Linked DNA regions of Homo sapiens. The protein of the gene in region 3 purifies or fractionates together with the protein of the main gene of each other region. This does not show direct contact. Each region holds a gene or a part of one and is shown on either strand. Other genes may lie near its edges.

The links.
Region 1: the proteins of CCR6 (region 3) and SLC39A10 purify together in Homo sapiens (affinity purification with mass spectrometry; one large-scale study listed by BioGRID and IntAct). This does not show direct contact.
Region 2: the proteins of CCR6 (region 3) and MCOLN3 purify together in Homo sapiens (affinity purification with mass spectrometry; one large-scale study listed by BioGRID and IntAct). This does not show direct contact.
Region 4: the proteins of CCR6 (region 3) and PIGN purify together in Homo sapiens (affinity purification with mass spectrometry; one large-scale study listed by BioGRID and IntAct). This does not show direct contact.
Region 5: the proteins of CCR6 (region 3) and PTPN2 purify together in Homo sapiens (co-immunoprecipitation; one large-scale study listed by IntAct). This does not show direct contact.
Region 6: the proteins of CCR6 (region 3) and TSPAN15 purify together in Homo sapiens (affinity purification with mass spectrometry; one large-scale study listed by BioGRID and IntAct). This does not show direct contact.
Region 7: the proteins of CCR6 (region 3) and PTDSS2 purify together in Homo sapiens (affinity purification with mass spectrometry; one large-scale study listed by BioGRID and IntAct). This does not show direct contact.

The regions. Positions count from the first base shown.
Region 1 is NC_000002.12:195,730,226-195,733,725, forward strand, and holds part of SLC39A10 (zinc transporter ZIP10 precursor), read left to right. Parts: intron 1-3,500. UniProt on the Homo sapiens protein: Zinc-influx transporter. When associated with SLC39A6, the heterodimer formed by SLC39A10 and SLC39A6 mediates cellular zinc uptake to trigger cells to undergo epithelial-to-mesenchymal transition (EMT).
Region 2 is NC_000001.11:85,042,001-85,045,500, forward strand, and holds part of MCOLN3 (mucolipin-3), read right to left. Parts: intron 3,363-3,500; coding exon of another isoform or gene 3,361-3,362; coding exon 3,133-3,360; intron 1-3,132. UniProt on the Homo sapiens protein: Nonselective cation channel probably playing a role in the regulation of membrane trafficking events. Acts as a Ca(2+)-permeable cation channel with inwardly rectifying activity.
Region 3 is NC_000006.12:167,129,596-167,133,095, forward strand, and holds part of CCR6 (C-C chemokine receptor type 6), read left to right. Parts: intron 1-3,500. UniProt on the Homo sapiens protein: Receptor for the C-C type chemokine CCL20. Binds to CCL20 and subsequently transduces a signal by increasing the intracellular calcium ion levels.
Region 4 is NC_000018.10:62,159,557-62,163,056, reverse strand, and holds part of PIGN (GPI ethanolamine phosphate transferase 1), read left to right. Parts: intron 1-544; exon of another isoform or gene 545-727; 5' UTR 728-804; intron 805-1,671; 5' UTR 1,672-1,703; coding exon 1,704-1,924; intron 1,925-3,500.
Region 5 is NC_000018.10:12,794,445-12,797,237, reverse strand, and holds part of PTPN2 (tyrosine-protein phosphatase non-receptor type 2), read left to right. Parts: intron 1-2,752; coding exon 2,753-2,793. UniProt on the Homo sapiens protein: Non-receptor type tyrosine-specific phosphatase that dephosphorylates receptor protein tyrosine kinases including INSR, EGFR, CSF1R, PDGFR.
Region 6 is NC_000010.11:69,496,465-69,499,964, reverse strand, and holds part of TSPAN15 (tetraspanin-15), read right to left. Parts: intron 1,757-3,500; coding exon of another isoform or gene 1,686-1,756; coding exon 1,569-1,685; intron 1-1,568. UniProt on the Homo sapiens protein: Part of TspanC8 subgroup, composed of 6 members that interact with the transmembrane metalloprotease ADAM10.
Region 7 is NC_000011.10:484,779-488,278, forward strand, and holds part of PTDSS2 (phosphatidylserine synthase 2), read left to right. Parts: intron 1-2,112; coding exon of another isoform or gene 2,113-2,160; coding exon 2,161-2,295; intron 2,296-2,641; coding exon 2,642-2,692; intron 2,693-3,420; coding exon 3,421-3,500. UniProt on the Homo sapiens protein: Catalyzes a base-exchange reaction in which the polar head group of phosphatidylethanolamine (PE) or phosphatidylcholine (PC) is replaced by L-serine. Catalyzes the conversion of phosphatatidylethanolamine and does not act on phosphatidylcholine.

The DNA.
Region 1 (3,500 bases), on a different chromosome or scaffold from region 3:
CTAGTCATTTTCCAGTCTTCATTTTTCTTGTCATAACAGCAGAACTTGACAGTTGGTCATTCTCTTTTCTTTGAAATGCTTTTGTGTCAGTAGGCTTCTGTTTGTTTGTTTATTTGTTTGTTGTGAGACAGTCTTGCTCTGTTGCCCAGGCTGGAGTATAGTGGCATGATCGCAGCTCACTACAACCTCCGCCTCTTGGGTTCAAGCAATTTTCATGCCTCAGCCACCCAAGTAGCTGCGATGACAGGCATGTGCCATCACGCCCAGTCTTTTGTCAGTAGGTTTCTATAATACCACAATTTCCTGGCCTTTTCTCCACCTTGCTGGCTTTTCTCAGACTCTTTACTGGATCCTCCTCTTCTCCCCCTGCATCTAAATGTTGGCAAAAGATGTAAGTAATTTCATCTAGTTTCATGGCTTTAAATATTTGTTGGCTGATGATTCCTAAATTCGTATCTTTATTATAGGCCTTTCCTTTAACTCCAGACTAATCCAACTGTACTTGAATGTCTAAAAGGCATTGTGCACTTGACATGTTCAGAACAGCTCTTGACGTTGCCAACACTACTACTTGACCAGCCTGTCTTGCAGAAGTCTCCATCTCAGAAATGATGATACCTCTATTCTTCTAGTTGCTCAAAAAGCTTGAGTGTTGTCCTTTGACTCAACTTTTTGCCCTCCCACATCTTGTTTGCCAGAAAGTCCTGAGGCCTCTTTCGCCTAACCACCTGTACCCTCATCATTTTCATCCAAGCCACCACCATCTTTCTCTTTTTAACTACTCTCCCTGCTCTGTCCTTGCCCTGCCTTCCAACTCTGTATCAGCTCAACTAGAGCAATCCTTTTAAGCCATAGATCACATCATCACATTTGTATGCTTCACATTGTGGTTTTTCATCCCATTCAGAGTAAAAGTCCTAAAGTTCTTTCTTTGACTTGCAAAGTTTTTCATCATCCTTGAACATTTCCACTCCCTTGTCCTCCTTAGTTTTCCTATCCTTACTTCAAATCCTCCCACTCTCCCTGAGGGACATTCTGCGTCAGGGCTGTGGCACTTGCTGATCACCCCTCCGGAATAGTTTTCCTGCAGACGTCCTCATGGCTAGCTCCTGCTTAGGAGGCATCTTATCTAAAATTTAAATCTCCCCTTCAACATTTCATATCCTCTATCCCTGCTTTACTTTTTCTCCTTTGTACGTGTATCTCAACCTATTAACACCATTTTACTTATTTATCGTGTTCATTGTCTTCCCCACTAAGATGTCAGCTCTGGGAGGACAGGCATTTTTGTCTTATTTTATATACTGCTGGAAATTTAGTTTATATATAGTTAGTATTTCCTTACATCTGTAACACTAGAAAGTTACAGATACAAGAAGAATGAGTCTTTACAGAAAGGATTTATAGTTTAATGAAGAAGAAAAGTCATAACTACAGTTATTTTGATATGTGTTATGATAGAGTTTTGCACCATGTTTGTGGAACTACAGAGAGGCTGGCTAAAAAGTTGGGGAATAGAAAGTTTTTCCATCAAAAAAATCCGAGCTGAGTCCTAAAGAATGGAGTTTATTAGAAGCAAGGGGAAGGGTCGTATGAGGAAGCTGAATGATTTATAACATCATTCCTTTGAACAGTAAGTCTATAGCTAGGACTATATTCTGAGGAAATAACATGACTACTCCTGATAAAACAAGCAAACAAAAATAAAACCTCACTACGTGGTTCTTTGCAGTAGTATTTATAATGTCACAATTATATTGGAAACACTCTAAATGTTCAAGAGAAAGGGAAGAAACTGTCCACATATATTTTGTGAGATTTTAATGACCCAGAAATTGGGTATTTTCTAATGTTAAGTAGGAAAAAATGGATCCATATTGTCGTCAGGTAGGTGTTGGCCATATCCTGACAGTCGCACAACATGCCATACCAAAAAGATGAGAGTTTATCTTGTAAACTTTGGAGAGCCATGAAAAAGTTTAAGCAGTAGAATGACATGATCACATTTTTGTTTCAGAAAGACTTTGGCTCTATGGAGGAAGACTTTTATTGATTTAAAGCCATTCAATAAGATATCAACAGTACCAGAAGTTTTAGTTTGAGATACCTATAGGATAACCAGGTGGAAGTATCTAGTTGTAGAGGACTTTGGGTGGTGCTGTTTATCAATCAGTATCAAAGCATTTTTATGTAATATTTTAAACAAATATGGCCATACCGGTAGGTGTTGGTTGGCTCTTAGCTGTGGTTATGACAAACAGTGTGGGTGTTGACATTCAGGTTAGAATTAAATGTGGCAAAGCCATAGTTCCTATTCTAGTTGGTATGTATACATATCTAGAGGGCATATTTCTGTAAAACATGCTGCATATTGTTTATGCTTAAGTATTTAAGGAAAGTCATAATGAAAAATCTTTGTAACAATAAAAACTTGGAAGGAGGAGAAAGGATAGAGTAAAATAGTCTTACTAGAACCATATGTAGGAAGCTGTCAGTTTGAAGGGCCAGATAGTAGATGGTTTAGGCTTTGGGGACCATATGGTTTCTGTCACAGTTTTTCAACTCTGCTGTGGTAGTGTGTGGTTCCTGGGACAGCGCCTCTGCTGTTGTAGCACAAAAGCTGCCATAGACAATGTGTAAATGAATAGGCATGGCCAGATTCAGCATGGTTTGCCAACCCTTAGACCATTAGTTGATTTGATAAAGTGATTTTGTGAATGGTTTGGACAAGAAAATAATCTTTACTAGCTATTATATACCATTACCATAGACTTTTAAACAGAATTTATGATAGCATGCTGTAGTTCTTAAATATGACCTTTAAGAGATTGCTAAAATATACCATAGCACTGTCAGAGCATGGTGGTTAGATTAATTGTACCCATTATTTAATAACAAATAATGATGTTTCTTCCTAGACAGGAAGAAGTATGAATTAAGAATTATGTGACTTAACACTAGATTTCTCCTCCCTAAACCCAAATCACCAAGATACTGTTTTGGAGCAAAACGTAGTGTCCCAGAGGGTAGCATATCAGTGTCATCTTTCTGTAGATAATGACTGCAAATTTGAATTATGTTTGCAGAAAAGTGAAAGTAAAAATTGGAAGTAGCAATTCCTTCACAATTTTAGATTAGGTTTGGGTGGAAAGAATGTATGCCTATAATGATGCAAATGTATTTCTTCCACAAATCTTATTTACTTAGACAAATTAAAGGAATTTAATTTTTATATTTTGAATCTACAGATTATTCTTAGATGTAATAGTATGTGGTATGCTTTAGAAATTAAGTATATAAACTTTTCTTTTCTTTTTTTTTTGAGACGGAGTTTTGCTCTTGTTGCCCAGGACGGAGTACAGTGGCGCAATCTTGGCTCACCGCAACCTCCGCCTCCTGGGTTCAAGCAGTTCTCCTGCCTCAGCCTCCTGAGTAGCTGGGATTACAGGCATGCACCACCATGCCCAGCTGATTTTGTATTTTTAATAGAGACGGAGTTA
Region 2 (3,500 bases), on a different chromosome or scaffold from region 3:
ACACACACACCACATGCTGTACATGCTGTAAATTGAGAAACTACACCCTTACTTAAATCCCAGAGTGAGGCAGAGTATATTTTATATGGAAGGCGGGAACAATGTTGAGCACCTATGTGCCATACACTATTCCAGGAACTTTCCTCATACTAATCCTGCGGTGTATTCCTCATACACCAATTTTAGAGATGAGGCTCAGAGAAGTTACATAGTTTTTTCAAGTCACATCACTAGCCAGTGTTGATACAGTGAAAACTGAAACCCATGTCTGACACACTAAATCTAGGTTCTATCCACCCTGTCATGCTACACAAAGTAATCCAGGGTTTGATCAGAAAAAATACAGCAGACAAATCTTTTCCCCTCTCCCTTCCACATATGATATATGGTCTGCACCCCACACATATCATCACTCTGCACCTAACTCTCTTTTCTGCAGAGCTTCTTTAATTGTCCTCAATAAGATGACATCTTGATATTCTAGGGATTTTGCATCTGTTGAAGCTGATGACCAAACAGCCCCAAAGAATTCCCAAAGATATTCTTACCAGTCATTCAAATACATGAGTACCTCTCCTGTGTCAGCAGTGAGCTAGGGACTGAGGATACAATGAGAAGACAATTGGTCCCTGCCCTCAAAGGTTTAGTGGCAGACAGGAATAACAATGGCTGAGAGAAAACTGCTGTAATTCAGAGAGTAAGCCAGGTAGTGGGAAAAGAGAAATTTTTAGTAGGGTGTCTATCATTGTAAACATCTTTCTTTTGCTGCTGCAGACACAAAATCTCCAGTTTAACAGAAGGACCACCTCATTTTCCCTGAGATAATCTGTCACCATTTGCTCACTTCATTTGCTCAATTACAAAGCTGTCTTTATCTAATATTTGTTTGATTGCTCTGATATAAATTAAGGAAACATCACAATTAAGAAACCCTCAGTTCCTTTTAAAAACTTACCTAAACACCTTTTACATGCTTATTACTAGCAGCCTTAATATCTTAAACCATTGTTCAGTTTTCCCTTGACCACCTTAGTAAACATAGGAAGGTAGATGAGCTCCCTAAAAATTAAGAAGTAATTACGAACATAAATCTTAGAGAAAATAAATCTGAGTTTGAATATCAGTTCTACTCTTCTAGTTTCCTGACTATGACAGGGTCCTTTTCCTTACCAAGACCCTCATTGTTCTCCTCTGTGAAATGAGGATACCACTACCTACCCTCCAACTTGTTTTAAGAATTGAGTATGGGCCGGGCACTGTAGCTCACGCCTGTAATCCCAGCACTTTGGGAGGCCTAGGTGGATGGATCACCTGAGGTCAGAAGTTCAAGAGCAGCCTGGCCAACATGGTGAAACCCCATCTCCACTGAAAATACAAAAATTAGCCGGGCATGGTGGTGTGTGCCTGTAATCCCAGCTACTGAGGAGGCTGAGGCAGGAGAATCGCTTGAACCCGGGAGGCGGAGGTTGCAGTGAGCTGAGATGGCGCCACTGTACTCTAGCCTGGGTGACAGAGTGGGACTCCATCTCAAAAAAAAAAAAAGAATTGAACATGATGACATCTATAAAATGTTTAGCCTGGTATACAGCAAACACTCAAGTGGTACCTATTATTATTCTAAGTAGAAAATATTCATGTTCAATTGATACAGGCTTTTCTCCTTTATAAGAAACTAAACTTTTCACTATTGAGACACACCATATTATCACTCAGAAGTTAAGAATTTCAATTTCAACTTGCCAAGTATTTGGCTGAGAACTGAACATCCATTTTCAGGGTAATATAATAGAGAGAATGCCTGCCTTCAAAGTCTTGATATTGCCACTGACTAGCCATGTGACTTTTTTTTTTTTTTTGAGACAAGGTGTCGCTCTGTCACCCAGGCTGGAGTGCAGTGGTGTGATCACCACACCTGGCTTATTTTTGTATGTTTTACAGAAACAGGTTTTCACCATGTTACCCAGGCTGGTCTGGAACTCTTGAGCTCAAGCAATCCACCCACCTCAGCATCCCAAAGTGCTGGAATTACAGGCATGAGCCACCCTGCCTGGCCAAGCCATGTGACTTTAAAAGAGCTCTACAAACATCAGTTTCCTCTTCTGTAAAATGAGCCAGTAAGAATGTTAGAATTAAATGAAATAATGTACTGGAACAGGGTAGTCACTAAATGTTTGTTTCCCTTGATACAACACCTAGCATTAGAAACAAGCAAGAATTCTACCAACTTCATATGATTGTAAAAATTGCCTTGGTTCCCTAACAATCATAAGTGTTTGTTCTCAATAAGCAGTTAAAATTAGTAATATCCTGTTTTTTTTAATCTCTCCTTCAATACCAATTGTTTATTTACTTAGGCATTTTTCACCAACTTAGGAAGAGTAAGTAATAATAAAAATAAACCTATCACATCTATTTTTCTCACTAAAATCTGCTTCTATTTTGCCCTTTGCTTTTAGCAAGAGATAATTTGACCAACAGGAAAACATATTTTCATAAGAATAAATCACAACCAGTATATATTAAGAATCACAAAATATGGTTCCCCCTTTCCCCCAAAAAAATATTAAAAGCAGCCAAGGAAATGTGATTTAAAAGCTCCCTTTGAACTAAAAAGAGGTCCTGTGTTTCACTAGCTCCTGCCACTCCTCTTCTGTTAGTTAACTTCACATTCTTCCATTGCATGGTTCTCATGATCACAGGGTTGTGAGAATCTAAGAATTTGCCTGTAGCAGGAACCCTTTAAGTTTCTGAAGAGAGAAATTCCCAGGAAACTAACTAGGAAGGAAAAGAAAGTCCTAATGTTGGACAACACTAGTTTCCATGGCTTATTTAGAAACCAGCTGAACCTCTTCATTGGAAGCCAAATATTAGTTTTCTTTTCCTGAAAATTAATTAGATTATGTGACTAAAATTATAACTTAGCGAACGATACAAGAAAAAAACTAAGAAAAAAGAAGACAAACTCTTTCACAAATGTTGAAGACAGAAGGGTCTAAGATTGTATGTTTTCTTATCTGTTACTCTTCAACATTTTGCATATAGTTAAAAGTTATTTAAAAAAAAAACCACTGTCCATAGTTATCTTTGTAATTAAAAGAGGCTTTCACCAAACTCATGATCTGAGATGCTTACCTGGATAGTCACCATTGCAATTTTTAGAATTTGTATGGCAAGTTTCCATGGTTTTCTACCTCGAGCCCAGAACTTCTCACAGGGATTCATGAAAAAAAATTTGAGTTTTCGCCTCATCTGGTCTTCTAATAGAAGCTCCTCAGATGGAGATGTTTGCTGGTTAAAATTGCAGCGATTTTCCTCTTCATGAGAGCTGCAGCTACTCACAACTACCTCAGGATCTGCCATCTCTAGAGGAAAAAAACAACAACAACAACAACCAACATTTCCATTTAGTGAGTAAAGACACAAGTCCATATTCTTTAATATTGCAAGGAGAAGCCCATACAGAAGTCCTGGTTTCAAATAAGCACCATTGCTCTAAACTG
Region 3 (3,500 bases):
GAAATGCTTTTTTTAAAAAAGAGTAGAGAGGTGCCAAACAGGAATCAAGAAATTCTGCTTTCTCTTGTCTTCAGAACATGTGATAAAGCTCAGTCAATGAGATATGCCTTCCTGGTGAAGGAGATACTCAGGGGATGAGACATGATGAGTCTCTCATTTGGTGTCATGCCATAGTGTGCCCGCCCTACAGGGTACCCCGGGTCCTGTGAGAGGCTAACATTCAGGTGGGGGGTGACAATGAGTTACTGAGACAGCAACAATCGACACTTTACTTGAGGCAGCTGAATATTGGAAAAGAAGCCTCTTAACTGCAAAACCGAATTGAGTCAAATGACATTTCTAAAGTGTGTCATTAGATGACTTTTTCTTAGAGCCCCTGAAACTCCTCCTCCAAAGAACAGTGTGTCCTACAGAAGCTCTAGAAGTATTCCTCTGCCCACTTGTTTGGGAAATATCTAAATTCCAAAGACAAGAAAATTACACTTTAAGAATCAGTTGAGCTGAATGTATTTTACATGTGATTTAATGACATCAAAGTGAGATCTGGTGAGAATGGTGGTCATAGGGACCACGTGTGAGATAGGAAGTGCTGAACCTCAAAGAGACAGTGTGAGATGTGTTGCAGGTGGCTGCTTTGCAAGGGTAGGTTCACTGGTTCACCAAGAACTGGACACAGGGCTCAGCACATTTCCCTGCATCTCTCATCTGCCACTCGTAGATAACAGGGTGTCTTATTCTCAGTTCATTAAAGAAGGAACAGAAATATCTACTAAAAAACTTCTTAGTGTCTTCACATCAACATTTTCTTAATAGAAAATCTGCAGCCTGTTTCTCCAAGGAGCTGGTGACTGCTGCCTGAGATCTGAGATGATAGAGCAAGTTGTGAACAGGATTCTTTACACGTTGAGGTGATACCCACGCCAATCTGTCACCAAAACAGTTTCCTTAAAACAATTCACACAGTTTTTCCTGTGAAAACAGTGGCTTGGGGAAGGCCGAATCATTTTCAATGACTGTGGCTGGCATACAGGTGAACCTGACAACCACCGTTTTTATGGAGAATCCTGATTCTTAACCACAGTGACATTAAATTTGTCATTATCTAGAATTGTACATTGTTTATACCTAACACGTGCAAAACACCATCCTAAGAGACATGGAATTTATCAATTTTGGTTCATTGACTTATTCTGACATGAGAATAAATGAAAGGAAATTAAAGTAGTGTCTTATGAACAGGACGGAGTAGGCCAGCTTCTCATAGCTCTGCCGGGAACTTCCTGCCCTGTGGCCTGTGTATCTGGTTCCCTCTGGGCCTCCTTCTCTCAGGGACCCCACCCTCTGGGCCCCCCTCCCTCCGGGACTCCTCCCTCTGGGACCACCCTCCCTCTGGACCCCCTCCCTTTGGGACCCCTCCTTCTGGGACCCCCATCCCTCTGGACCCCTTCTCTCTGGGCCCCCTCCCAACTCCTTCTGCCGACAGGGATCCATCACACAGGCGCCCCAGTGCTGGCCTTCTGTTCACCAAGAGTTACTCACTTTCTGGGGTGCATCTCGTGATGACTGCTAGCATGGAACCGTTATATAATTACTTGTTTACCTGGCAGCCTTTTGAAGCTCAAGTACGCGTTGAGTCATCGCTGCACTTCAGTGCCTCTCCTCCGTAGACAGTTCATAAACATTTGTTGAACTGAGTTCAACTTAAATTCAGAAAATACTGTGTGTCACGGTGCAGTTAAACAAATGCTTACCTTAAATGGGGGCCCGTTGGGCATCGAGTGCACGGCGTGCCGGGCCGTCCCTCCCTTTTTGGCCCCCGCTGCTCTTCCCATCGTCATCAACTCAGCCTCCACGTGATGGGGAGGTCACTCCCTCCCATCCGGTCCCAGCCCCACTCACCTGGGAACCCGTGCCGCTGGCCCCACCTTGGCCTAGCATCCGTCCAACCCTGCAGCGACCGCTCCCCACAGCCCCTGCTCCCTTGTTCTCCAGAGCCGCGCCCCTGCTGCAGGCCTCCCCCTCGCTGTCCCCAAGCCCCTGCCTTCCACCCACACTGCCCACTCCTTCCCACCGTCCCCGCCTCTGTCCTTATGGAGTCCTCAAAAGCTCTTCTTGCCCCAGAACCTCCCATTACCCCTCAGTGCTCAGCGGCAGATCCTTGCTGTGACTGTTTATGGCACTAAGTGTCTGTTCCAACACATTTGCGCGGAAGAGTACGCAGGTACTTTTAAATTAACTTTATTGAGGCTAATTTATATGCAATAAATGTCACCGATTGAAGGGTACAATTCAACAGGTCTTGACAAGGGCACCCAGCCATGTGCCACCCCCACAATCAGGATAGAGGACATTTCTGCCACCACAAAAGCCCCTTGTGTCGCCCAACCCCAGCCAATCCCTTCTTCCCGTCCTGATGACAATCCCTGATTTCATTCCTGCCACTGTTATTTTGCCTTTTCTAGAAATGTTAGGGGTGGAATGGTGCAGTGCATGGTCTCTTCTGCCTGGATTTCTTACCGAGCGAAGGTTTTGAGTCACCCCCGTTGGAGCATGCATTAGTCGCCCGTTCCTTTTCATGGTTGAGTAGTATATGCTGTTGCATGGATACACTTCAACTCGGGTATCTGCTCACCAGTTCACAGACATTTGGGTCTTTTTCAGTTTGGGACGGTTAAGAATAAACCTGCTGGGAATGTTCCAGTGTTAATCCTCCCATGTCTCTTGGGTAGACATGTAGGAGTCGGTTGCAGGTTCCCATGGTGGATGCATGTTCAGCTGTGCAAGAAAGGACCCCACTGTCTCCTTGGAGTGGCTGTGTGATCTTGCAGTCCCACCAACAAAGTGTGAGAGCCCCAGATGCACCATGTCCTCTCCCAGCTTCCAGCCCCCTGTTTAATCTTAGTCCTTCCAGTGGGATCTCTGTGTGTGTGTCTGTGTGTGTGTGTGTATGTGTGTGTGTGTTTTGGACGGAGTCTCTCTCTGTCACCCAGGCTGGACTGCAGTGGCGTAATCTCAGCTCATTGCAACCTCCGCCTCCCGGGTTCAACTGATTCTCCTGCCTCAGCCCCCCAAGTAGCTGGGATTACAGGAGCACGCCATCACGCCTGGCTAATTTTTGTATTTTTAGTAAAGATGGGGTTTCACCATGTTGGCCAGGATGGTCTCGAACTCCTGGACTTAAGTGGTCCGTCTGCCTCGGCCTCCCAAATTGCTGGGATTACAGGCCTGAGCCACTGTTCCCAGCCTTCATTGTGGTTTTAATTTGCATTTTCCTCATGATTAATGGCATTGAGCGTCTTTTTTGTGTGTGTATTTGCCATCCATGTATTTTCCTTGGTGAATTGCCTGTTCACATTTCCCCCTGTTTCTTATTGTTTATGTTTTTGATAGGGAGTTGTAAAAATTATTTGTATATTCTGGATATAACCTATTATCAGATATAAGCTTTAACATACTTTTTTCTATTCAATATATATATGTTTCACTTTCTTGAGTGTCTT
Region 4 (3,500 bases), on a different chromosome or scaffold from region 3:
CTTTCAGATTTGGGTAAACAGTTATTTACATGTTTCTAATGGAATCTTAAATTGGTTTGGTAATTTGAAGAATTTTTCACAATATTTGAATCTTTAATTCTACATTGAGAATTATATTTAAGAAAATAACACAAATATATTCAGAATTATTTTACATTCATATTGATAATTTAGCATTTAATGTTCATTAGGTTGTTTAGTAAAAAAACATAAAATTTACTTTTTAAAAAAATTAAGGACAGTGATTATTATTCTAAACTGCCTCAGAAAATGGAAAGTTGATTTGTAGTAGCACAGAAGAGGGGAGGGAATATGCTATATGACACATAAAGATTCTCTTTGTCAGTTAGCTATGAGATGCAAAATAGCATCTACTTACTAAGGAACTTTTGTACTTTGTAGAATATCTTTGATATTTAGTTGACCCTTGGTTCTCAGAAAATAAGTGGCTTGTAATTTGACCTTTTGCTCTATCATGTTTTCTTTTTTATAATCTGCTTGACTTTGATGAGTGTTTTTCCAATGTTTCATTTGTTTTTGCAAGGTTATTTTGCCATCCTTTCCTTCCATGATGTGATTCTTCAGGCCAAGAAGAAAAAGATGTGTCTGTAGCTAAAATTACCTCATCCTTGGTGTTTTTCAGCCTAGGATCACTATATGTAGCTAATGCCGTTACATTACAACTAAGACAAGTTCCAATACTTTTTTTTTTCTCCTCGATCTGCAGAGATTCACCAACAATAGCAAATTACACACTGGCTTGGAAAGTACTCCCATGTTCCGTTTGATCTTGGCAATTTAATGGTATCTTCTTTTACAGTTTTATTTAAATGTTTCATATTGCTTCGTTTTTCTTCCTTAAGTATTTGTAAGTTCATCAGCTCTGTGATGAACTTACAGAGAACTCGATATTCTTTATAGTACCCCAGCACCCAGTTATGCATGTGATGTGTGCACAAAACATTTTTATTGAGTGGATAAAACATAACCTTTTTGATTGATTCAGGGAACTAAAATAAAATGTTTCTTTAATAAGTACAAATTTTCTGAAGCACAGATGAAATTTAACTTCATATGATTCTGCCAAATGTGATAGAATACATGTTTCCTGCTCAATATGGTAATAGTCAAGAGAGCCAGAATACCAAAGTAAGAAGAAAAAAAAAATCACAAATATTTGAATAATTTAAATCAATTCAGCAACATCTAAATAATTATAACTGATTTAAATAATTAAAAATCCGTTATTGGCAATGATTGTCATATGTACAACCAAGAGTTGCACGACTTATATTTTCTTTTTGTAGGATTTGACTTGGCTGAACGCTAACTCTTTTTAGGACTGATTTAATTATTTATTTGTTCTTTGGTCCTGTGCTAATTTTTATGAGCTTATTATGCAGTTAAATTCATTATAGTTTATTTGTCCCAATTACTTATTATACTTGAACTTTTTCTTTTTGCTTAGATGTACTTTATTACATATTTGATTTCAGTATTATGTCACATTATTAAATAGTGCTTATTGTTACCACCACAAATGAAAGTAAAGTTGTGAGTTATATAATAATTAAAAATATATGTTTCATCTACTTGTGATCATCAAAATATGTGAAAATACATATGAATGCATTAAGATTTACCCCAATTTAATTTTGTTCTCTCTTTCAGCTGTTCTTGAAGACTAATTAGTTACACTGGATATGCTGCTGTTCTTTACTTTGGGATTGCTTATACATTTTGTGTTCTTCGCCTCCATCTTTGACATTTATTTTACATCTCCTTTGGTTCATGGAATGACTCCTCAGTTTACACCATTGCCTCCTCCAGCGAGAAGATTAGTGTTGTTTGTTGCTGATGGCCTTCGAGCAGATGCACTTTACGAATTAGATGAAAATGGAAACTCTAGAGCACCGTTTATTAGGTAAGCATGTAAACTGATACAGAGACATCTCTTAAAATGTTATTCTGAGTTAAGTAAACTGCAAAATATCTTACTATTTATCATGCACTGGGCACAGGGGTGATGATGAGAAAGAGAATAGGGCACTTGTACATTTGCCTTTGTCTTATGGGTCAGCACTAGATGCTACTTTATTTCCTCCTAGGTGTTATTTCTGGTATTGTTGAAGCTGATAACCGGTGAATTGAAATGGATAGGCTTAGCTGCTTAAGCTAAATTGTCCTAATTTCCCAAACTTGGCTCAAGACTCACTATATTATTTTTTTCTTAAAAAATAAGTCTGCTGGCTGGGCACAGTGGCTCACGCCTGTAATCCCAGCACTTTGGGAGGCTGAGGCACAGGGATCACCTGAGGTCAGGAGTTTGAGACCAGCCTGACCAACATGGAGAAACCCCGTTTCTACTAAAAATACAAAAAATTAGCTGGGGGTGGTGGCACATGCCTGTAATCCTAGCTACCTGGGAGGCTGAGGCAGGAGAACCTGCGAGGCAGAGGTTGCAGTGAGCCGAGATGGTGCCATTGCACTCCAGCTTGGGCAACAAGAGCAAAACTCCGTCTCAAAAAAAAAAACAAAAAAAAAGTCTGCTAATTTTACAAAATAAAGACAAGCATAAATATTAATGAATTACTAATTTCAATGATGTTTAAGTACAAAATATAGACTTCAAATTAAAACACAACCTTCTGTAAAAGAATATAGAGCCCTTTCACTTCTATATCACTGTTTAACATAACTTTGGCTTCTGTTAAGTTGCTTTAAAAAGAAATATTTAATTTCTTGGACTTACAAAGGGCCTACAAACAATTGCTCTTTTTCTGATTAGTGGCAACTCCTGAAAGGCCTTGTAATGCTGTTATGGAGAGATTAAAATAGAATTCAAGAGGAAATTTATCTAAAATGTTGTGTCTTCCCCCATCTCCATCTGTCATCATTACCTCCTATCATTTTACTCTGTTTTCTTTTTCTTTTTCTTTTTTTTGAGACGGAGTCTCGCTCTGTCACCCAGGCTGGAGTGCAGTGGCGTGATCTCAGCTCACTGCCAGCTCAGCCTCCCAGGTTCACGCCATTCTCCTGCCTCAGCCTCCCGAGTAGCTGGGACTACAGGCGCCCGCCACCACACCCGGCTAATTTTTTGTATTTTTGGTAGAGACGGGATTTCACCGTGTTAGCCAGGATGGTCTTGATCTCCTGACCTCATGATCCACCTGCCTTAGCCTCCCAAGTGCTGGGATTACAGGCGTGAGCCACCGTGCCTGGCCTGTTTTATTTTTCTTTATAGTACTTCCATCATGAAAGTTCCATGAGACTGGGGACTTATCCACCACTTTATCTCCAGTTCCTATAACATAATGGGCAATTAACAAATATTTGTTGACAGCTAGAAGAATGGATGAACTCTAATGCTGTGTTGAATTTTCAGAACTAAATTTACGATAGCTCAGAGAGATGCATAACATATTGAAGGATAAAAATAAAGAAAAGAGAGACTCAAGTCAATAGACGAACATTGTGGGAAAATAAGATCAAACCAAGGT
Region 5 (2,793 bases), on a different chromosome or scaffold from region 3:
TTAACGATACCCCCAGGCTCCTGGCAAAAGCTAATAAAGGGCCCATGGGAGGCTAACCCCCTCTCTGTTTTTATACATATTTTGCCTACACTTGAACACAAATGTTTTCACTAACAGGTACATGCATATTTGTGATAGTGAATTTTCAATTCAGAGAGTGAATTCTGAGTAAGAATTTTTGCAAGTCATTATAGCAGATATTCAGATGGAGTTCAGACAGCCAGGGATACCTGTATATATGATAACAAAAAGTGAAAAAGACATGAGAAAGCACCATAAGATGAACAAAGATAGCAAAACCCAGTCTGTCCTCAAGTTGCAGAATATGTGATGAAGATAAAACAAGTACCCAAGTTAGCACATTATTAGTAAATTATAAATTACTTCAAATTAAATGCCGTAAGAATAGAAGGGCTAGAGGGGGTGGAGCAAGATAATTGAAGAGTAGAACTGAAATGAGAGGACAGGAGAGAAGGGAAGGTTTCTATTTTAGTGGGGAACAAATTTGGAGAACAGCAAAAAAACGGCAAGAACAAAGTTCTGCATAGCAGGAGAATATTGGCAAGCGTTTGCATGGACATGTGTTCTCAGTTCTCTTGGGTACATATCTAGGAGTGGAATTGCTAGGTCATATGGTAACTCTATGTTTAACTTTTTGAGGAGCTGTCAAACTGTTTTCTGTGGCAGCTGAACCATTTTACATTCCCACTAACAATCTCTTGGGGAGAGAAGGTTCCAGTACACCAAAGAAGTGTAACATTGATTAAAATATTCTAATACATAGTTCAATTCAGATTTCTCTTGTCTGAAAGATTCACCATATAGCTTTTTTAATAAAGTTTTATGGAAATATAATTTATATAGCATAAAGTTTACTCATTTAAAGTATACAATTCAGTGACTTTTAATATATTTACCAAATTGTGTAGCTGGCACCACGATCTAATTTTAGAACATTTTCCTGATCCCAACTTCTGTAGCTGTTTAAAAAATATTTCAAGATTAATCAAAGATTGATACTATATTTAGTTGATGTGATTCTTTGGTCTCCTTTAATCTGGAACTGTTCCCTGCCTTTTTCTTCCTTGCTTGACATTTGTATTTTTGAAGCTTCTAGGCCAGATATCTTTTAGAATGCCCCATACAATGCATTTCTTTAATCATTATTTATCATAGTTAAATTCAGGTTAAACGTCTTGGCCAGGAAAAAGGTAGTCTCAATGTAGGAGACATTGAAGAGGCATTTGAGATTTTTAAGCACCATCGTGCACTAGGCCCGGTAACGAAAAAAAAAAAAAAAGATTTTAAATCAAGCTACGTGTCCAGGGGTATGCTCTAGAAAAATTACCATGGCAATAATATTTAATTTGAGGGCAGGGAAGCTGGTTAGGCCTTTGCTGTAATACAGAAAAGTGAAAAGAGGGAATGGAAGAAATAGTAACCTATATGTTGCCATTGGCCGTTTTTTTGTTTTTGTGGGTGTGCTTTTATAGAGAGGCAAGACTTGCTATATTGCACAAGCTGGACTTGAATTCCTGGGCTTAAGCCGTCCTCCTGAGTAGCTGGATGGCATTATTATTTATATAGAACCAGAACTAAGTATCTTGAGAGTCAGAGACCTTCCACTGAAACAAAATTTCTGAGACCGGACACAGTGGCTCATGCCTGTAATCCCAGCACTTTGGGAGGCTGAGGTGGGCGGATCACTTGAGATCAGGAGTTCAAGACCAGCCTGGCTAACATGGTGAAACATCATCTCACTAAAAATACAAAAAAATTAGCCAGGCGTGGTGGTGCACGTCTGTAATCCCAGCTACTTGGGAGGCTGAGGCAGAAGAATTGCTTGAACCCGGAAGGCGGGGGTTGCAGTGAGCCAAGATCGTGCCACTGCACTCCCGCCTGGGCAACAGAACAAGACTCCATCCACCCCGCCTCCCCCACCACCCCAAAAAAATTTCTGTATTGACTATGAAAATGGGAGGTAGAAATGTGTATGGTCAAATAAAAGAATAAGTGCTCCCACAACAGAATATTCATGGAAATATTAAATAGCTAGCTTTTATAAGAGCCTTAACCATCAAACGTGACCAGGAAATGGGATCAGATGCAAGTGGTACCCCCTTGTCTTCCCACTCCTGCTCCTGCTGACTAGTTAACAAGGAAGGAAAGAAAACTAACAGTCATCAATTCACGTGTCAAGAAAGTACCTTGCTTATTTTCAGGTCCCACTAAAAGCAGTTATCAATATAAAACTGTACCAGGAATGGTTGTCAAGGTACATCTCTGAATCATTAAAGAATATTGAGGCTTTTCTTGGCCGGGCGCCGTGGCTCACACCTGTAATCTCAGGACTTTGGGAGGCCAAGGCGGGTGAATTGCTTGAGGTCAGGAGTTCAAGACCAGCCTGGCCAACATGGCAAAACCCTGTCTCTACTAAAAATACAAAAAATTAGCTGGGCATAGTGGTGCACGCCTGCAGTCTCAGTTACTTGGGAGGCTGAGGCACGAGAATCACTTGAGCGTGGGAGGCAGAGGTTGCAGTGAACCAAGATTGTACCACTGCACTCCAGGCTGGGTGACAGAGCAAGACGCTGTCTCAAAAGAATATTGAGGCTTTTCCCCTCATTATTCCAGTGTTCAAATAGGGTGAAAACTATGTGGATGGTTTTATTTGCGCCTAGGTCCTCTGTGTTAGAGTACTCAAGTCCTGCTCTGTGTGCACTTCCTTTCACTTGTTTTTATTTCCTCATAGTGCTCTACGGAAACGTATTCGAGAGGACAGAAAGGCCACCA
Region 6 (3,500 bases), on a different chromosome or scaffold from region 3:
TGGCCTTCGGGGTACCCATGACCTCCCTGACTCCACCTCCTACCATCCTCCGCTGTGCTCCCTCTGCTCCAGCCACTCTGTGCATTTCTCAAACGCCCTGGGGTGATTCCCACCTGGGGCCTTTGCACAGCTGTTCTTGCTGCCAGGAATGCCCCTCCCCCAGACACCTTCCTCACTTTCTTCAGAGCTTCACCCAGATCCCGCCTTTCTCAGTATCCCAAACTGCAATCCTCCATGCCCTACTTTCTTTTTCTACTCAGCATTTATGATCCTCTATCTTTTACTTATTTTGTTTGTCAGTTTTCTCCACTAGGATGTCACCTCCTTGCGGGCAGAGACTTTGTTTGCTACACCCCCAGAACCTGGAAATGTGTCTGGCATAGAGTAGGTTCTCAGCCAATATTTGTTGAATGAATGAATGAATGAATGAATACAAGTTTGGCTTCCACATCTCAGCTTAGGTATTCAGATGCTGCTGCCCTGGGTGATGAGGTTCAGGATCACCCCACGCAGGCCTCTCTGGAAACTCTGCTACTCCTCAGCACCCCACTTCCCAGAGAACTACCCTAAAATGGCAGCTAACACTTCCAAACAAAGCTTCCCTCCTGGCCCGGCCTTTTTTAGAGCTAGTGCACTTGGCACTGGCTCTCTGACTCATGGGCGAGGCCCCCACCCGCAGCTGCTCAGTTTACAGAATCCAGCAGTGGGCACAGAATGGTGGCAATGTCAGGAGAAAAACTTTCCATGACTATCTGGGCCATGAGTAATTGCAAAGCTCTCCACCTCGTTCCAATCCTGAAACAGTTTCTGGACACATTTGTCAAACACAAGGACTGATGAAGCCTTTCACTTAAGCGCTGACAACACAAGACATCATCCCAAATGACCAAGGTGACAGACCCGAGAGGATCGTGCTGGGGAGAGGAAGAGGATGGCATTTACGTCACCAGACCCCCTTCCAAGCACTCTGCTGCTGATGATCACCAGGACCTCAAGGCCAAAGACCAATGGAGATGCCCAAGGTGCAGGTCCTGCCTGCCTCCACTAATGCTGCAGAGCCAGCTACCCCCGCTAAGCTCCCCTGGCCTGGGCACCTCTCCCTCCTGCCCTCACCTGGCCTGCACAGTTCTCCAGAGTGTAGCTCAGGCAACAGCTGCCTGCACTTCATCCCAGCCCTGCCAACCTTGGGCAAGACACCCAGCCTTTGAGTGCCTCAATTTCCTCATCTGTAAAGTGGGTAAAATAACAGTACATACCTCACAGGGTTGTCGTGAATACTAAATGAGTAAATACCACCAAAGTGCCCAGAGCAGGCCTGCACAAGGTAGGTGCTCAATAGATTTTAACCAACACCACTAAGAAAGACATGGTCTCCCTACCCCCGACCCCCAGAAGCTCCACTTTCAGGAGCCCTTGAGAATCAGGAAAGCCTCCGCTCTGCCACCAACTCCTACTTCCCTGCCATCCACCCACACCACCCATCTTCAAGTTGGGAAGAGAGAAAAGAGAACATTTATACCACCTGGGGTCCCCGACAGCCCCCCAGTCCCCACAGGAGCAGTGTCTACCGTGTTCCTGATGCAGCAGGTGTAGGGCACCCCACAGGCCAGGGGTCCAGGGGCACTGCAGTCGTGGTACTGATTCTTGCTCCAATCTCGGTAGTCCTCCCCGCCACAGCACTTGAACTGAGGGAAGCAAGCAGGAAAGAGGAGCTGCCGTCATCGCCCAGGCCCTGCTCAGACGACAGGAAGGGGCCCTGTCAGGAGACGGAGGCAGTTTATTATGTGGGTCACCCTGGGGCAGGGAGAGGCTGTACACTTTCAAGTCAGAGCTGTCAAAGTGTGGCATGGCTGCCTAGAGGGTAGTGAACCCCCTGTCACTAGAGAGGTATGGAAGCCAAGGCTGGGCTGCCTCTTGGTGGGATATCAGGGTAGTGACTAGGCACTGGGAGGAAAGGTCCTTCCTTGACAACTGGCCTCCACTTTCTTCATCTTCGTGTCCCCAAATGCAGGTGCTAGGCTGGAAAAGATGGCCCTTAAAGTCCCAGAGACCAAGCATGATTCTGTGAAAGTCCCTGCACCTCAACCAACCTTCGCACCCACCCTAGGAGCCACCCCGTCCAGCTCAGCTGGCCCTGCCCTTAGCAAGGAGAGCACCCACACCTCACAACCTGCCTGGAGCTCTCCCCTTAGCCGAGCCCCTCCCTGCCTCCCCTCCCTGCTCCTGTAGGAAGTAGTTGGTAACCCTCCTGATGGCTGGTATGTGCCTGGCATTGTCCTGGGCACTGGAGAGACAGGGTGAGCAAAAGCAAGGCAGCCCTTGCTCAGGTGGAACACATTCCAGTGGAGAGACAGAGAGTGAGCACTGGATGGAAAGGTGCTGTGCAACCTGGAAATGGAGAAATAGGGGGAAAGTGGGGAGGGGCAGCTCTAGGTTGGCAGGTCATGAAAGGGCTCTTTGTAGAGAGGATATTTCATCTGAAACATGGAAACAGAAAGAAGCCAGACGACCCATGCAAAGGCCCCACGCAGAAACAAGCTTGTATTTCAGCAGCAGGTGCGGAGGCCAACAAGCCTGGAACAGAGAGAGTGCAGAGCATGAGGATGAAAGGGCGGCACAGGCTGGACCATGCAAAGCTTTGCCAGCCAGCTGAAGCAGGGAGCTGGGACTGGAGGGCTCAACCAGGGCTGCAGTACACGTCCTGGTAGCCAGACACCTTTCAGAGTCCCCACAGTGCCCCTTAAGCCACCAGGTTTTGGGACCTAGAACTGTCTTTCTGCAATGTAGTTCAAAGGGCATTTGTCTTGCAATGGAACAGACCCAAGGTCAAATCCTCAGACCACCACTCCCTGCTGTGCAACCTCAGGCAAGTTGGTCAGCCTCTCTGAGCCTCAGATGGTTGTCTGTAAAGCAAGAATAAGGATGGCAGCTCTGCACAGCTGAGCTGTGATTACATAGAGTGCCATGCATGAAGCACTCAGCACTGGACCTGGCACCAAGCAAGTGCCCATTCAGCATTAATCACCTCCTACCTCTATGCCAGGAGAAATGAAATCCCCAAGCCAGCTAAAGGCTGGTTCCAATAAAAACATCTCACTCCACCCGGAGCAGAAGTCAGCTCTCCCAGCCCAAGCTGGCAGGCACATCCCTGGCAGAAAAAGACCTTCCAGAGGCTGCACCTGTTGTGACTGAAGAGAAAGTCTGGGCCAAGGGAGCGGCCACAGCAAGTGGCCCTGCATGTGGGGAGAGGCTAGTCCCCACTGAGAGCTGGCACAAGGATCCAGGCCAGCTGAGGCCCCCAAGATTATGTCCCAGGAAGTGCTGTCCCGGCTGAGTGGGCCTGCAGCCCTCACTCTACTTGTCCTCACCCAGGAGAACATACCAATGATCCCCACAGCTGGCACTGTGGTCTCACCCTGTGCTTGGCACTGTTCTAAGCACGTCTCCTGAATTAAGTCAAGGTAATCCTCATGACGACGCCCCAAGAGCTCCTGTCATTA
Region 7 (3,500 bases), on a different chromosome or scaffold from region 3:
TGTGCGCAGGCGAGTGTAAACTGCACGGGCGCGTGTGCTCACCGTGTGCGCAGGCGAGTGTAAACAGTGCACGGGTGCGTGTGCTCACTGTGCGCAGGCGTCTGTAAACAGTGCACGGGCGTGTGTGTGCTCACTGCGCAGGCGAGTGTAAACTGCACGGGCGCGTGTGTGCTCACTGTGTGCGCAGGCGAGCGTAAACTGCACGGGCACGTGTGCTCACTGCGCAGGCGAGCGTAAACAGTGCACGGGCGCGTGTGTGCTCACTGTGTGCGCAGGCGAGTGTAAACTGCACGGGCACGTGTGCTTACTGTGCACAGGCGAGTGTAAACAGTGCACGGGCGCGTGTGCTCACTGTGTGCGCAGGCGAGTGTAAGTGCACGGGCGTGTGTGCTCACTGCGCAGGCGAGTGTAAACTGCACAGGCGCGTGTGTGCTCACTGTGCGCAGGCGAGTGTAAACTGCACGGGCGCGTGTGTGCTCACTGCGCAGGCGAGTTTAAACAGTGCACGGGCGCGTGTGTGCTCACTGTGTGCGCAGGCGAGTGTAAGTGCACGAGCGCGTGTGTGCTCACTGCGCAGGCGTCTGTAAACAGTGCATGGGCATGTGTGCTGTGTGTGTGCAGGCGACCGTAAACAGTGCACGGACGCGTGTGTGCTCACCGTGTGCGCAGGCGAGTGTAAACAGTGCACGGGTGTGTGTGCTCACTGTGCAGGCGAGTGTAAACTGCACAGGCGCGTGTGCTCACCGTGTGCGCAGGCGAGTGTAAACAGTGCACGGGCGCGTGTGCTCACCGTGTGCGCAGGCGTGTAAACTGCACGGGCGCGTGTGCTCACTGCGCAGGCGAGTGTAAACAGTGCACGGGCGCGTGTGTGCTCACTGTGCGCAGGCGAGTTTAAACAGCGCACGGGCGCGTGTGTGCTCACTGCGCAGGCGAGTGTAAACTGCACGGGCGCGTGTGCTCACTGCGCAGGCGAGCGTAAACAGTGCACGGGCGCGCGTGTGCTCACCGTGCGCGCAGGCGAGCGTAAACAGTGCACGGGCGCGCGTGTGCTCACCGTGCGCGCAGGCGAGCGTAAACAGTGCACGGGCGCGCGTGTGCTCACCGTGCGCGCAGGCGAGCGTAAACAGTGCACGGGCGCGCGTGTGCTCACCGTGCGCGCAGGCGAGCGTAAACAGTGCACGGGCGCGCGTGTGCTCACCGTGCGCGCAGGCGAGCGTAAGCAGTGCACGGGCGCGCGTGCTCACCGTGTGCGCAGGCGAGTGTAAACAGTGCACGGGCGTGTGTGTTCACCGTGTGCGCAGGCGAGTGTAAACACAGCTGGTGCCCTGGTGCGTGTGTGCTGTGAGCACAGGTGTCTGTAAATGATGTAAACCTCCCTTGACGTCAGGCCCAAAAGCCTGCCTTGCCCTAAGGTCAAGAGGTGTATCTGGCTGATGCCAGCGTCTGGGTGAGGAAAGAGCAGGTTCCACAAGGGCGACTCCTGTGAGGGTGTTGGCCTGAGCGCGCATGCGGGGAGGGGTCGGGGTGGGGGCGGCGCGCCGCAGTAACTCAGGGCCCCATCCCGCTCCCGTCTGTCCAGCGGTCCTAGACCCCCATGTCCTGAAGCGCACCTGTGCCCACCTGGCCCCGGGGAGCGCAGGTGTGGAGATGGGGTGTCGTGCCTGGGGGTTCCTTCCCCACGCGCTGCCCCACCAGGATTTCCCTGGGGTGGGGAGGGCTGCTGAGACAGGGCGCTGCCCTCCTCCAGGGTGACTGAGATGCAGTTTACAACCATGATCTCCTGGCCGGGCGTGGTGGCTCACGGCTGTAATCCCAGCTCTTTGGGAGGCCGAAGTGGGCGGATCACGAGGTCAGGAGATCAAGACCATCCTGGCTAGCACGGTGAAACCCCGTCTCTACTAAAAATACAAAAAAAAAATACTAGCCGGGCGTGGTGGCGGGCGCCTGTAGTCCCAGCTACTCGGGAGGCTGAGGCAGGAGAATGGCGTGAACCCAGGAGGCGGAGCTTGCAGTGAGCCCAGTTCACGCCACTGCATTCCAGCCTGGGCGACAGAGCGAGACTCCATCTCAAAAAAATAAAATAAATAAACAACCATGATCTCCCGTTTCAAGTTGCCACCACTAACTGTAGCCCCGCTGACGGGGGCACTGGCCTTGCAGACTGTCCAGGACGGCCGGCAGTTTCTAAAGTATGTTGACCCCAAGCTGGGAGTCCCACTGCCAGAGAGAGACTACGGGGGAAACTGCCTCATCTACGACCCAGACAATGAGACTGACCCCTTTCACAACATCTGGGTAAGACGCCGGGGGCCCTGAGGCGAGCCCCTCCCCAGGTGTGGCCCCGTGCCGGACCAGGCGCCATCCACGCTCCTGCCTCGCACCCCTCAGCCCACACTTGGGGTCTCCTGGTGCAGAGATGTGCTGAGGCCCTGTCCGTCTGGATGGTGCTCATGGTGGGCAGGGGGCCCCTGCTCTCTAGGCTGTCGTGGACGTGGTCTCCACAGGCCACGGCAGCACCTGTGAGTCCCTGGCCTTCTTCCCGGGGTCTGGCAGGTGCTGCTCAGGTGTGGGCTGATCTGCCGGTGTGGGGAGTGGGGGTGGCTGTGCCCCAGGGTCAAGGGTCATACCCTGTCGCCCACAGGACAAGTTGGATGGCTTTGTTCCCGCGCACTTTCTTGGCTGGTACCTGAAGGTACGGCACCTCCTCTTCCCGGCCTCCCCGCCCCGGTTCTGAGGCCTGCCGTGGGCTCTGGACCGTTTCTGTCCATGGAGTTGAGCTCAGGGTGCTCTGAGTGTGGTGGGAGGGTGTCGCACTGCAGCCACCCAGAGGTTCGAGAAGCCGTGGGGCTCCCGGACCTCCCAGAAGCCCTGATCCTGGTCGGGTCCCCGCTCCGTCCTCAGGGTCGGGGCGGTGGAAAGAGGCGGCAGGGCAGGAAGTCCCGCCCCTGCCTGGGCTTGGGCACTGCCCCATCCCACTTCTGAGGGACCCTGTGCTACCTATGGGGCTAAGAGCAGTGCCTGCTTGACCCTGCAGCCCACCCTGGCAGAGTTTGGTGTCAGGCCCCGGGCACGGGGATGCTGCCTTGTTTGCTGACAGTCGTACATCGAGGCTGCTGGAGGGGCAGCCACCCACCCCACGCTCACCCTGAGACCTCACTGGGGGCCCTGCCAGTGCTGTCGACTCCAAGAATGCTGCCAGCCGGGGTGGGGGCTGCACGCACCCGTGGGCAGGGCCGGGCGTGGCCTGCGTCCCATACTCTGGCTGCCAGCCGGGTGGGGGCTGCACGCACCCGTGGGCAGGGCCGGGCGTGGCCGGCGTCCCATACTCTGGCTGCCAGCCGGGGTGGGGGCTGCACGCACCCGTGGGCAGGGCCGGGTGTGGCCGGCGTCCCATACTCTGGCTGACCCTGGCGCCCACAGACCCTGATGATCCGAGACTGGTGGATGTGCATGATCATCAGCGTGATGTTCGAGTTCCTGGAGTACAGCCTGGAGCACCA